Linked DNA regions of Homo sapiens: region 1 is linked to region 2. A link means that fine-mapping ties the variant in region 2 to the expression of a gene that starts in the linked region. Tissue or cell type: whole blood. Region 2 holds a variant in brackets; the other region holds the start of a gene. All regions are shown on one strand. Distances are between the middles of the regions.

The links. PIP is the estimated chance that this variant, and not a neighbour inherited with it, causes the effect.
Region 1: it holds the start of TPM1, and the variant in region 2 is fine-mapped to the expression of TPM1 in whole blood (TOPMed, PIP above 0.99).

What each region holds. Positions count from the first base shown.
Region 1 is chr15:63,041,508-63,044,007 of GRCh38, forward strand. TPM1 (tropomyosin 1) reads left to right here and starts at 1,240. Exons shown (of 10, transcript NM_001018005.2): 1 at 1,240-1,436. The coding sequence starts at 1,323. RefSeq lists enhancers at 184-1,098, 2,012-2,500.
Region 2 is chr15:62,996,545-62,999,301 of GRCh38, forward strand. No RefSeq gene overlaps it. Among named protein-coding and RNA genes, the nearest start is that of TPM1, 45 kb to the right of the region's middle. The variant A/G (reference allele first, on the strand shown) is at 1,627.

The sequences.
Region 1 (2,500 bases), 45 kb after region 2:
AGCCTTTCCCCCTTGGGAGATGGGAGGAGTAGTTAAAAATAAGAAGTGTTGGGGGAAATCCTCCTCCTTCCAAGCACAGCTCACACGGCAGAGCCTCCTCAGAGTTGCGGCTGCGGATGCAATGACTTAGCCAGGTTAACGCCGATCCCATGTTTTCCGAAACCTGGCACCTAAGCATCTAACATGGAAGGCCGACTCCCTAAAATCAGTGCAAGAAAAATGATAACAAGTTATATCTGGAGGGACCTCGGGGATTATCTACCCGCTGGATTTAAAGTTGAGGAAGCCGCGGGCAGCAAACAAGGTCTCACAGTTGCTGGTGGCAGAGTAGAGACCACAGACCAAATTGCCTGAGTCTAAACTCAATGTTCTTTCCCCTTAGACTGCCACCCGCACACACACGCACACATGCACACCTTTTTGGAGGCACTGCACAGCAAGCACAGAAGTACGCCACTGAGTCCTGTGTCCCTAAAGTATTTGACTGTCCCTCCGCTGGGGGAAAGGGCAGGCAGAAAACAAGACTCCGTGTGCTGTCGCTGTGCCGCCCCCTGCCTCTCTGACCCGCGCCCGCAGAGAAAGTCTCAAGAGCCGCCCCAGGCTTTCTCCCACGTTCTCCCTTTCTCTGCTGCAGTTGAGTTTCCAGAGCGTGAGCGCGCAGGATGACACCTGGCTGGCTGAGAGCTGCCGGGGAGGCGCTGGCGGGTGCCGAGAGCGCACTGACCCTGACGCGGGGTGCAGCACGGCTGGGAAGCCCCCGGGCCTTTGGCTAAGCGCGCCGGGGGACGGCACAGGGGGGCGACGCGCATCCACCACCTGGTCCGCGCTCTCCCGGCCTCCGGCAGCTCAGGGCGGGCTCGGTTGGGGACCCTAATGGCTGGGTGCCGGCCCTGGGAGAAGGGCACGCGGAGGGCGGAGGGTTGCGCCTCGGCCCCGGCTCGGCCCCAACGCCCTCTCCCTGGCGCGCAGGTTTAGAAACAGGGCGGCCTCTCCGGCCGCCGCCTCGGCGGCTCGGGTCCCCATATATAGTCATATCCACCGTCAACTGGGAGGCCGGCGGCCGGCAGCGAATGGGCGAGCGGCCCCCGCGGGAGGAGCGGGGAGGGGGCACGGGGCGGAGGGAGGAGAGGAGGAAGGGGGGCAGGAGAAAAAAGCTTTTCCAAAAAAGTATTGGCTGTCTTGAGGAATGCGGTCGCCCCCTTGGGAAAGTACATATCTGGGAGAAGCAGGCGGCTCCGCGCTCGCACTCCCGCTCCTCCGCCCGACCGCGCGCTCGCCCCGCCGCTCCTGCTGCAGCCCCAGGGCCCCTCGCCGCCGCCACCATGGACGCCATCAAGAAGAAGATGCAGATGCTGAAGCTCGACAAGGAGAACGCCTTGGATCGAGCTGAGCAGGCGGAGGCCGACAAGAAGGCGGCGGAAGACAGGAGCAAGCAGGTCTGCGCCTCCCCGGCCCTGCGCCCGCGCCCAGAGCGCCGGGACTCGAGCCTGGCACCCCCGGCTGGATCCCCACCCCGAGGACTCGGGGAGCCACCACCCTACCCCCACCACCACCCAGGGCGGCCAGGGCGCGCGTCTGGAAAGAAGGAAGGGAAACGCAAGAGCCAGGCTTAGTCTAACTTAGTCTGGTCTGAGGACGCTTATTTCCCTTCTCTGGTTCCCATGGCCCGCGAAATCAAGTCCTAGAGGCGCTTTATTCTCAGGACTGGGAATCAGTTTGGGGGAGGGAGGAGGACACCCGGTTCCTGGGGACGTTTGAAGGAAGGGCGAGGGATGGAGAAAGGGGGTCGAGTAACTCAAGTGTTAGAAGTTCGTTGACTTTTGACTGGGGAGAAAGGAACCTTAAACTTGGGGAGGAGAAGGGAGTCCTGGAGTTGTTACCTAAGAACAAAGATGGGGCGGAATGGAGGCTACAGCCCGAAAGCCAGGCCAGCAGTGGCGTTCTTCTGTGTCCCCAAGTAGTGGACTTGAGCCCGCTGAGACCTCGGCAGGAGTCTCGTCCCAGGGCAGGTGGGTGTGCGGGGTGAGCCGCGGAGCGGTTCCAGCTCGGGTAAAGAGGAAGTTACCTCGGGTCCTTTGCACTCCAACTCGGCGGCGCCCCGAGCCCGAGGGGCCCCAGCCAACCCGACGCCCGTGTGTTGTGTGTGTCTAACACCCGGTCCGTGCCGGCCGCCCGCGCCCGCCCGCCGCTGCCCCCAGCTCGAGGAGGACATCGCGGCCAAGGAGAAGTTGCTGCGGGTGTCGGAGGACGAGCGGGACCGGGTGCTGGAGGAGCTGCACAAGGCGGAGGACAGCCTCCTGGCCGCCGAAGAGGCCGCCGCCAAGGTACCCGGGGCGCGCGGCACGGCGTGGCGCACGAATGGCTAACTCTTTCTCTTTCTCTCTCTCCCTCCCTGTCTTTCCCTCTGTCTCTCCCGCTGTCCCTGTCCTTCTGGTTCTGTGCACCCACACCCCTCCCCTTCGGGATCACGCTGCCTGCTGCACCCCCCTCCCTCCCTGTA
Region 2 (2,757 bases):
CTTCCTAGAAGAGGTGAGGAGACTTCTAAAAGGACTGGAACAAAGGGAGAGTCCTGGGCTGAGACAGGAAGGTGGTGAGTTGTTGCAAGATTTGAGACAACAGGGGAGGAAGGGAGGATGGGCCAGGGAGGCCCAAGGGCCTCACACATGCAGAGTCCTGGGCGGCATGGTATCTGGGAAGCCTCTCCAGGCATCTGTCCTTCCCTTTACCACCATTATGCTTTGGATAAAATCCTGAGGGGCCCAGTAAACCACAGGCCCATTCTCCCAGAAATTCTGACCCATTTGTTGAACCATGGGTTCATTTCTTAAACCACATCTCCTGAGCATTTTCCTGGGACTGGGAACACAAAATTGAGTGTGAGAGTCTTTGACAGAAAGCTTCTCTCCATGGAGAAGCTTGGTGTCCAGCAGGAAGGTCGTGGGAAAAGATATTAGCAATGCAACATGGAAAACGTGAACTAGTGGCATGCAGAAAGGGCCAAGGGAGGCCGGGCACAGTGGCTCACACCTATAATCCTAGCACTTTGGGAGGCCGAGGTGGGTGGATCATTTGAGCCCAGGAGTTTGAGCCCAGACTGGGCAACATAGCAAGACCTCATCTTTACAAAAAATTTAAAAATTAGCCTGGTGTGCTGGCAAGTGCCTATGGTCCCAGCTACACAGGAGGCTGAGGTGGGAGGGTTGCTTTAGCTCGGGAGGTCAAGACTACAGTGAACTGTGATTGCACCACTGCACTCCAGACTGGACGACAGAGCAAGGTTGTATCTCCAAAAAAAAAGGCCAAGGGAGCCCCAAGGAAGGAGGACCTCTTCTGGGGAGGGAGAGGATTATAGTCTTACAAAGCTTCTCTAAGGTGTTATGCCAGGTCTTGAAGGATAAAAAGGAGCAATCAGACTGCTACAGAAAGCAAAGGCACCCTAATAAAAAATCAGTCAAAGACACCAAGGTGTAAAAGGGCACAAGTGTGGCTGGAATGCAAAGGGCTGGGCATGGGGCTGGAAAGGTGGGTGGGTCTGGCACCTGAATATCCCTGAGTTCCAGCCCAGGAGTCTGGGCTTTCCCCTGCAGCTGATGGAAACCACTGAAGAATTTGGTGAACACAGCTTCTATTAACAAGAGAAGAGCAAAAGAGGGCAGGAGTTGTGGGAAATAGACCAGGACAAATGGAGCGTGAGTTACCAGCGGGGCCTCCACATACAGAGGTCCAGGAGGTGGATATAAATAAAAGCCTGAGGCCAGAGAGAGGTCCAAGCTAGAGGCGAAGATTATGGAATCTTATCATGAAGGTGAGAGTTGACGCTGGGGCAGAAAAGGGACCACCCCCACCCCCAGGAGGGCACACAGAGATGAGAAGGCCATAGAATGGCATCTGCCACCAACAAGGTCATTCCCTTCCATGGAAAATCCAGCCCCTTGCTAGTCCAGGAGGACTAGCAAGGAGGCATTACCCCCTGTAATTTAGCCTTCTGCAAGGACCTGCTTTACCCACTATCAAATTCTGGCCCAGTTCTGCCTGAGACCAAATTACACCCAGTGTCATCTACTGGACAAGTCTCTACGGTGAAGGAAGTATGGCATCATGGTTGCTTTGTAACTTCCCAAACGTGTCTTCAGAGCTCTGAA[A/G]CAATGAGCAGGGACCTATTTCCGGCCCTAAATCTCTATAAAGGAAAGGGCCATTACCTCTAGAGCATGCTGGGCAGGTGGGGGCAGGGTGCTAGCAAATGTCCCCTTCCCCTCACCCAAGATTTCTACACCTACCTGCAATCATGCTTTAAACTCCCCTCAACAAAGTCACATTTTTACAACCATACAGAAGTTCAAAGGGCTGTTACCCTGGGCTGGTTAAGTCAACAGGTATTTACTGGTGCTGCAACTCCACACTCTTTAAATATCTCTCTGGCTTTCCACCTGTCACCTCTATTTTGATGACTGCCACATCTGCCTGATGAGCAAGCCTCTTAGCTGTTTCAGGTATTTCCAATTGCCAGCAGGACATTTACGATGGAGAGATATAGTAGATCTTTATTGTAACAGCGAAAGTTCTGGTGTCTGAGTGTCTGCGTTTGGAATCCTGTTCCACCTCTTACTAGCTATGACCTTAACTATTCTTCGCCTCATGTTCTTTATCTGTAAACTGATAATATGAAAGTGCAACCTCATGGGGCTGTGATGAAAGAAAAATACTCATGCCTAAATCTCTACAGCAGTGCCTGGCACACAGTAAGCATGCGATGAAAACGAGCTGTAATTATTACCTCCAGTCAGAAGTTCTACTCCCACCTCAGACTCTTATGTCCAAAACAGAGAGTTGGGCCATTAATTCTGGTCCTGTTCCTCTACTAAGAAGCTCTGGGTGGCACTTACTTAACAGACCAGAAAATGAGGCCCACGGTGACAACATGACGTGCTCAAAGTCACAGAGCAAGCTAAGGAGAAAGCTGGGGTCAGGATTCCTCATCCAGGGCCCTTCTGTCACTTCCTATTGTTACTGGGAAGTGTGGAGTCTTCGGTTTTTAGTCCTTCTGGAGGAAAGAATTTGGCTAAGAGACCAATTAGTAAAGTAAGCAAAAGGAAATAAGAGTAAACTCCAAGAGAGGACTGGGCTCTTCCGGCTGGGAGCAGCCCTGATACTTTTGTATTGCAGTTTTTATTATGCCAGACTGTTTCTTTAAGCTCCTGCCTCCATCTTAACACTCCACCTTTTTCTTTGTTTAGTTTTCTGCTTTTGTTTTAAGTCTCCACTTTTGCTCCCTC